Linked DNA regions of Homo sapiens: region 1 is linked to region 2. Evidence: fine-mapped expression QTL. A gene starts in region 2. The other region holds a variant in brackets. All regions are shown on one strand. Distances are from middle to middle.

Region 1 (4,378 bases), 21 kb after region 2:
AGGCAGGGAGAGTTGCTTGAACCCAGGAAGTAGAGATTGCAGTGAGCTGAGATCCCACCGTCACTGAGATCCAGCCTGGGTGACAGAGCGAGGCTCCATCTCAAAAAAAAAAAAAGGAATGGGGACCAAATTAAAAAGAGAAAGCTGGGTGTGGTGTCTCATGCCCAGGAATTGGAGACTAGCCTGGGCAACATAGTGAGACCCCGTCTACAAAAGATACAAAAATTAGCTGTGTGTTGTAACATACGCCTGTAGTCCCAGCTACTTGGGAGGCTGGGGTGGGAAGATCACTTGAGCTTCCGGAGGTTGAGGCTACAGATAGCTGTGATTTCGCCATTGCACTCTAGCCTGGGCAACAGAGCAAGACCCTGTCTCAAAAAATAAAAGGGGGAGGGCGGTGCCTTGTTTACTGCAGTGTGGACTTGAGCACCAAAAACACATCATCGCCCCTGCACGTGATGCAGTCATATCACCCCCATTGCATTTCCGTATCTCTCCCATGATAACCCTCTGCCTATGAAACCTGCCCCCAAGCTCCAGCTTGAAGAGACAGATTTGAACTTCGCCTACTGTCTCCTTGCCAGTTGACTCTCAAAAAAGCTTTTTAGGCCAGGTGCAGTGGCTCATGCCTGTAATCCCAGCACTTTGGGAGGCCGAGGCAGACGCATCACTTGAGGTCAGGAGTTCAAGATCAGCCTGGCCAACATGGAGAAACCCCATCTCTACTAAAAATACAAAAATTAGCCAGGTGTGCTGGTGCACGTCTTGTAATCCCAGCTACTCTGTGGCAGAAGAATTGCTTGAACCTGGGAGGCAGAGGTTGCAGTAAGCTGAGATCGCACCACTGCACTCCAGCCTGGGCAACAGAGCAAGATTCTGTCTCAAAACAAAATAAAAACAAAAACTGTTGGAAGTTCCTCCCACTGGGCAAACAGTGTCAGGTGGGCGAGTGAAACACAAAGAAGCAACAGCCCATGGTGTGAGGTGTGGGGAGGTGGCACGCGCACCCCGAGGGCTCAGAGGAAGCCTTTTAGCGCTGCCGCCTTGGGGGTTAAAGGAGGCTTCCCAAGGATGCAAAAGGGTGAGCCTTATTAGGGAAGGGGAAGGGTGCTCCTGGAGGAGGGACCGGCAGAGGCAAAGGCCTGGTTTGCTGGAGGAACTGAGAGAAGGGTGACATTGACGCCCCCGCAAAGGGGGAAGAGTGTGGGAGGCAGCTGCCTGGAGGCCTCACTGAGCAGCTGGGACCAAATCCCATGGGGCCCTGGGGGAGGGGAGACGCAGGGGAAGCGGGCTTAAAGTGGACTTGGGAGAGGCCCGCCAGTGGAAGAGGGGTGGGGGTGGGGGTGCCAGGTCCTGGTGGGGCGTGGCCAGAGCTCATTTCTGGGAAGATGTCAGCTCTTCCCAGAGAGAGGCAGTGATGGGGCAGGGCGTGGTGGAGCCCTGCCTGGTATGGTACCTCCTCCAGGTAGCCCTCCTTGCTACCTCTTAGTCCACTGCCTGGACCCTTCCTGACTCCCTCTCTTAAAAGTGTCCTGGCCAGGCATGGTGGCTTACGCCTGTCATCCCAGCACTTTGGGAAGCTGAGGCAGGCGGATCACCAGAAGTCGGGAGTTTGAGAACAGCCTGGCCAACATAGTCACACCCCGTCTCTACTAAAAATACAAAAATTAGGGCCGGATGCAGTGTCTCACTCCTGTCATCCTAGCGCTTTGGGAGGGTGAGGTGGGTGGCTCACCTGAGGTCAGGAGTTCGAGACCAGCCTGACCAACCTGGTTAGCGGGGCGTGGTGGCACACGCCTGTAATCCCAGCTACTCTGGAGCCTGAGGCAGGAGAATCACTTGAACCCGGGAGGCAGAGGTTGCAGTTACCCGAGATCGCGTCACTGCACTCCAGCCTGGGCGACAAAAGCAAAACTCCGTCTCAAAAAAAAAAAAAAAAAATTATTCGGGCGTGGTGGTGGGTGCCTGTAATCCCAGCTACTCGAGAGGATAAGGCAGGAGAATCGCTTGAACCTGGGAGGTGAAGGTTGCAGTGAGCTGAGATGGCCTGGGCAACAAAGTGAGACTGTCTCAAAATAAATAAATAAGGCCGGGCGCAGCGGCTCAACGCCTGTAATCTTAGCACTTTGGGAACACCTGAGGTCAGGAGTTTGAGACCAGCCTGGCCAACATGGTGAAACCCCGTCTCTACTAAAAATACAAAAACTAGCTGGACGTGGTGGCGGGCGCTTGTAATGCCAGCTACTCAGGGGACTGAGGCAGGAGAATCACTTGAACTCGGGAGATGGAGGTTGCAGTGAGCCGAGATCGCACCATTGCACTCCAGGCTGGGGGACAAAAGCGAGACTTCATCTC[AAAATAAAT/A]AAATAAATAAATAAATAAATAAATAAATAAATAAATAAAGTGTCGTCCTGTCCACCAGCACATCTTCCTGTTGTATTTCCTTTTAATCCATAGCCCTAGCAGACTCTTACTTGTTTATATGTTTATATGTCAATATGTTTATATTGATTCCCCCAACTGTGAGCCCATGAGAGCTGCACCCTCTCCATCTTGGTTGTTTCTGGGTGCCCGCTGCCCAGGACAGGACCCAGTACCTGTACCCACACACCAGGTTCTTGGGAAATGTTGGTTGTGCCCCAGCTTGGCAGCACTGCTGGGTGACCTCGGGAATGTTCCTTAACCTCTCTGGGCTTCTCCTCTTCCCCAGTCTCAGAAATAAGAAAGTTGGCCTGAACCTCCAGGAAGAGCAGGGAGCCTTGGGCTGTTTTGGCAACTGGACCCCTGAGTTTTCTTCCCTGGCCTGTTCGGCCCCAGGCACTCCAGACAGGCCTGACCTATGTCATCCTGTCCTCCCCACCCCCTACAGCATCCTTTGGGATCTGGGCCCAGGGCAGGTGTGAGCTGTGGTACCAGCACACCCATGTCAAGTCCTGCCTCTGACGTGTGTTTGCTGTGTGACTTCCAAGAGTAGCTTGCTTTCTCTGAGCTCTGTTTCCCCTGGCCCAGGCTTGGGAGTGGAGTGTCTGGGGGAGTGTGGATGCAGTTCAGACCTCACCTGACAGGTGTGGATAGTACCAGGGCCAGGGCCCCCAAGAAGCTCCCAGGCTGGAGGGGGAGGGGGCAATGCCTAACATAACATCCCAGTCCTGGGGGATCAGCACTGGCTTGGAAGGAAAACCAGATGGGTTTTCAGGAGCCTGGGAAGCTAGCTGGAGGGCTTCTTGAAGGAGAGGACCACATAGGAACTAAGAGCTAAAGGTGGGAAGGAAATCTGGGATGCCAGAAGGAGGACTTCCTGGAGGAGGGGACCACATAGGAACTAAGAGCTAAAGGTGGGACGGGAGCCTGGGAGGCCAGAAGGAGGGCTTCCTGGAGGAGGGGACCACAAGAGCTAAAGGTGGGAAAGGAGCCTGGGAGGCCAGATGGAGGGCTTCCTGGAGGAAGGGACCATAAGAGCTAAAGTTGGGAAAGGAGCCTGGGAGGCCAGATGGAGGGCTTCCTGGAGGAGGGGACCAAACAGGAACTAAGAGCTCAAGGTAGGAAAGTTACCAGTCAGATGCACCCTGAGGTGGAACGGCTTTTGTGCCCCCTGCATTGAGGTGGGTAGAGAGAGGTGAGGACAGGAATGTAGGGAGGGCCGGACCCCATAAGCATGATGGGCTGCTGAGACAGGTTTGCAGTTTTTACCAAGAGTGCTGGGGAGTCTGGGGAGTGTTTCAAGCTGGAGAAAAAGGTGAGCAGTTTCTGTTTGAAACCCCACTGTGGGTCCCAGTTAAACATTCTGGAATTGCTACACACATGCACTTCAATGGAACAGCTGAGCACGTGAAGGTGATAGGACAGGCAAGCCTCAAAATTGGGGCTTAGTCTGAGAGGGTTCTTGGCTTCACCCAGGAAGGAATTTGAGGGCAAGTCAATTGTGTTAAACAGCAACTTTTCTTTTTCTTTTTTCCTTTCTTTTTTTTTTAAGATAGGGTCTCACTCTCATGCCCATGTTGGAGTGCAGTGCCATGATCTTGGCTCATTGCAGCCTCCAGGAGTCCTCCCACCTCAGCCTCCTGAGAAGCTTGGACCACAGGCACAGTCCACCATGCCCACCTAATTTTTTTTTTGAGATGGGGTCGTCTTGCTCTGTCACCCAGGCTGGAGTGCAGTGGCATGATCTCCGCTCACTGCTCCCTCTGCCTCCTGGGCTCAAGGGATCCTCCCACCTCAGCCTCCCAAGTAGCTGGGTCTACAGGCACAAGCCATGGAGCCCAGCTAATTTTTTGTATTTTTGGCACAGGCAGGGTTTCACCATTTTGCCCAGGCTGGTCTCAAACTCCTGAGCTCACGTGATCTTCCCACCTGGGCCTCACAAAGTGCCAGGATTGCA
Region 2 (4,378 bases):
ACAGGCCGGTGCAGTGGCCCATACCTATAATCTCAGCACTTTGGGAGGCCAAGTGGGGCAGATTACTTGAAGTCAGGAGTTCGAGACCATCCTGGCCAACATGGTGAAACCCCATGTCTCTACTAAAAATACAAAAATTAGCCAGGCATGGTGGTGGGTACCGTAATCCCAGCTACTCAGGAGGCTGAGGCAGGAGAATCCCTTGAACCCGGGAGGCGGAGCTTGCAGTGAGCCGAGGTTACACCACTGTGCTCCAACCTAGCCTGCTTGACAGAACAAGACTCTCTCTCTCTCTCTCAGAATGATTCTGGCAAGGGCGACAGAGTGAGAATCCGTCTCAAAAAAAAAAAAAAGAAAGAAAAAAAAGAATTAGTACCAACAATCATAATTCACAGCGTGGGCAGAAGGAAGTGGATAGACTTCCATTCAGAAGCTCCTGGGTTCGAATCCTGGACCCATCCATAAATACACAAGGAAGGAAGGAAGGAAGGAATAGTGGACAAATAGGCCTTTCAGCCCATTCCAAAAGACTTTATCATATCCCTTCTCAGATGCCCAAGCCTTGTGTTGCACAAGGCCAGGGCCCCAGAGAGGCCTCAGGCTTCCAAAAGTTTCCAGCCTTATAGGGGAGATAGTGCCCGACACAGACACTCCCACTACTATTACTGCTCACAGCAATAACAGAAGAAATCACAGGCAGGCGAGACACAGGGAAGGGAGCCAAGGGGGAGGGACAAGGATAGAGGAAGGATGCCAGAACCAAAAAGAGAGAGAGGAAGTGGAGTGCAAGAATGGTAGACGGCACGTGGCCAGTGGCTGTTACACACTGGCCAGGGAGGAAGTTGGGCTGAACAACCTAGATAATAAACGGCAGCGGGAGGCTGATTCGCCTTCCCAGATCTTTCCCATTTCTGTTCTGCTTTTCTTTGCATACTCCCGGAGACAGGGAGCTCACTCCTGAGAAAGGAGGTTCAATGTTTCCTGGGCATGGACCACTGTCCAGAAGTTCCAAGCAAGATGATTTGTCAAGTAGTAGCCCCTATGGGTCAAAGGGCTAAAGGGGGCCAGGCGCGGCGGCTCACGCCTGTAATCCCAGCACTTTGGGAGGCCAAGGCAGGAGGATCACTTGAGGTCAGGAGTTCGAGACCAGCCTGGCCAACATGGTGAAACCCCATCTCTGCCGGGCACGGTGGCTCACGCCTGTAATCCCAGCACTTTGGGAGGCCGAGGCAGGCAGATCACGAGGTCAGGAGATCGAGACCACGGTGAAACCCCGTCTCTACTGAAAATACAAAAAATTAGCTGGGCACAGTGGCGGGCGCCTGTAGTCCCAGCTACTCGGGAGGCTGAGGCAGGAGAATGGCATGAACCTGGGAGGTGGAGCTTGCAGTGAGCCGAGATCGCGCCACTACCCTTCAGCCTGGGCGACAGAGCGAGACTCTGTCTCTAAAAGAAAAGAAAAGAAAAGAAAAGAAAAGAAAAGAAAAGAAAAGAAAAGAAAAGAAACCTCATCTCTACTAAAATACAAAAATTAGCAGGGCATGGTGGCGGACACCTATAATCCCGCTACTTGGGAGGCTGAGGCAAGGGAATCGCTTGAACCCGGGAGGCAGAGGTTGCAGTGAGCTGAGATTGTGCCATTGCACTCCAGCCTGGGCGGCAGAATGAGACTCCATCTCAAGAAAAGGAAAGGAGAGGAGAGGAGAGGGGAGAGGAGGGGAGGGGAGGGGAGGGAGAGGAAGGGAGGGGAGGGGAGGAGAGGAGAGGAGAGGGGAGAGAAGGGGAGGGGAGGGGAGAAGAGGAGAGGAGGGGAGGGGAGGAGAGGAGAAGAGAGGGGAGGAAAGGAAAGAAAAGCCTAAAGAGGATTATCTGGGGAGAGAGAGGTACCCATGTGCGCAACGCAGGCAGTCCCTTGCACAGGCTGGATCTAGAGTAAGACCCACTTGGGTTCAAACCTGCTCTACCACTTACAGGCCTGGTGACTTCATCCCTCCAAATCTCAGTTTCCTCTTCTTTCCTCTGAAAGTGACCACAGTAACTGTGCCTACTCATCTGTGCCTACATACAAGCACAAAACTCATCGCTTTGTGCTTGTATGTAATGAGCTAATGCAATAAAATACCTGGCGCACAGGAGGTGCAGAATAAGTGTTGCCCTGTTCCAGGCAGGCCCAGAGTGCTCCGGTTGTGTCCCAAACACACATGTACTTTCTTACCTCTAAAACTTTGCACCTGCTGTAAACTTCTGCCTCACCAGCTCTTGCCCCACCACCCACAAGGCAAACTCCTACACATCCCTTAAAGCCCTACCTACAAGATAGATTTCTTTTCTCTGTTCAAGCCCTGACCTAGAGAGCTGGGAGCATCCATAGGCACCGGGTTCTGATGCGGCCTACTGTCATGTGATGTGAGTTCCTGGAGGGCAGGAGTTCTGACCTACATGCAGCAGGCACGCAATCAAAGCTTGTTCAATGAAAAAAAAAATGAATGAATGGTCACTTGGGAGAGGCGGCTCCCAAGCGGACACCCAGGAGTCGGCCAACCCCTTTAACGCCCGCATCCCCTGCTCTCCACGACCTCAAAGGGCCTGTAAGTGGTCGACAAAAAGGGGCGGGGATGCGGTGGTTCCGGGCGGGGTCTTCAGCCCTTCCGGTGCGGCCCCTTTAAGAGGCGGGGCCTGCGGGGCGGGCGCCGAGAACGCCGGGGCGGCCCGAAGATGGCGGCGGTGGCTGGATCTGGGGCTGCCGCGGCTCCGAGCTCACTGCTCCTCGTGGTGGGCAGCGAGTTCGGGAGCCCGGGGCTCCTCACCTACGTCCTGGAGGAGCTCGAAAGAGGTCGGGCTGGCCTGGGGGCCCGCGGGAGCCCGGGAGGCGGGCCCGTTCGCGCGTCTGGGCCCGGGGCCGGCGGGGTGGGGCGGCGGCGGCGGCGGCGGCGGGACCCGGGCTCCGGGGCGGGGGTCGCGGGCCTGGGGCTGGGTCCCCTTCACCGTTAGGCGCACGACGCGGGCAAAGGCGGGGTGCCCGTGGGTGCCCGCGGAGAAAGTGGCATCCGGGCCTGGGCTGGGCAGGGCTGCCCCGCCCCAACTCCGGGTGAAGATAGGGGAGGGGACACGGGCCTGGGCTTGGGGACCCTTGCAGTTGGACCACGGCTCCGCTTCCCGCCTGACTGGCCTGCCCGGGGGTAGGGCCTGGGGTCGCTTTGGATCTCCAGGTCTTAGCAGCTTAGATAGAGATCTCCCGGAGGGAGAAGCAGATATGGGGGAGGCTGGGCCTGGAGCCCCGGGGCCCGCTTTCTGTTGCCTCACAAGGAGCTGCTAATTGGGGTGTGGGCGGGTGCGGCCTGCCCTGGGGATTTGGCACCTAGGGAGGTGAGTCATAGGCGCACCTGCCAGGTTCACCTGCAGCCACTTGGCTCAGTGGGACTGGCGGGCGTGATGCGCCCGTGGGTGGAGATGGGTGTTCATCCCCCATCCCTCGGAGCATCTGGACCTGGCGTTTCATTGCATGTAAAATGGGACAGGAACACGCACCTCGGTTCATGTGCTTGAGGAGTGTTTAGTGAGCACCTGCTATGCGCCAGGCCTTTGGGCAGTGGACACAGGGATATGGCCGGGATGATAGACAGGTTCAGCCCTGCCAACACAGGTCTGGTTTGGGGATGGACCCAAAGCGAGTGAGGAGATGGAACAAGCTTCCAGCTCACATGGTGTCAGGAAGGATGAGAAGGCTGCAAGGGACTGAGAGGACAGTCAGTCTTAGCACCCGAAGGTGCTGAGGGGGAAGGGCCCCCTGGCCAGTAGGAACAGGTGGGGGCGGCAGGGGGATGGACTTCCAGGCAGGGGAAACAGCTGTTGCAAGGGCGGTGAGTGGAAACGGGTCTGGCAGGGCATAGGAGCAGCGAGGAGGTGGAGATGGAGGAGGTGGAGGCTTTGTTGCTGATGAATCTTGTGTGTAAAATGATGAGGTGTGCTCTGGGTCCCCTGGCTCAGCTGCAGCGAGACCTGAAGGTGTTGGGTACTTCTGAGTCTCCAAGCTGTGAGTGAAGGGAGGAGGCTGGGGCGCTCCCCACCCACGGGGTGCTAATTATTGAAATATTCTGGGAGCTGGGGGGCCCGGCTGAACTCCCGCCTTGATCCCTCCTTCCCACCAGGCATCCGGTCTTGGGATGTCGATCCTGGCGTCTGCAACCTTGATGAACAGCTCAAGGTCTTTGTGTCCCGACACTCTGCCACCTTCTCCAGCATTGTGAAAGGTGAGGCTGGGGTCCCCCTGACTGCTCCCTACCTCTTGTTATTTGGGGAAGTGCCAGCCGTGTGCCAGGCATGGGGGGTGGGATGCAGCTATAAATAACAACAGTAATAATACAGTTGAGACCTTTCA

Alleles and levels. Alleles are on the strand shown, and positions count from the first base shown. SD is a standard deviation of normalised expression in the study named.
For the expression in CD8 T cells of the gene that starts at base 2,693 in region 2, A is the high allele of the variant in region 1 and AAAATAAAT is the other (small effect, 0.40 SD a copy in Kasela 2017).

What was found. PIP is the estimated chance that this variant, and not a neighbour inherited with it, causes the effect.
Region 1: its variant is the best candidate, but not a certain one, in a credible set for the expression of MAP1S in CD8 T cells (Kasela 2017, PIP 0.81).

Annotation. Positions count from the first base shown.
Region 1 is chr19:17,738,220-17,742,597 of GRCh38, forward strand. All of the region lies in intron 3 of FCHO1-AS1 (FCHO1 antisense RNA 1), which reads right to left. Among named protein-coding and RNA genes, the nearest start is that of FCHO1-AS1, 11 kb to the right of the region's middle. RefSeq lists an enhancer at 644-1,144. The variant AAAATAAAT/A (reference allele first, on the strand shown) is at 2,356.
Region 2 is chr19:17,716,788-17,721,165 of GRCh38, forward strand. MAP1S (microtubule associated protein 1S) reads left to right here and starts at 2,693. Exons shown (of 7, transcript NM_018174.6): 1 at 2,693-2,833; 2 at 4,149-4,250. The coding sequence starts at 2,716. RefSeq lists enhancers at 723-1,224, 3,275-3,344, 3,735-3,884 and a silencer at 2,875-2,924.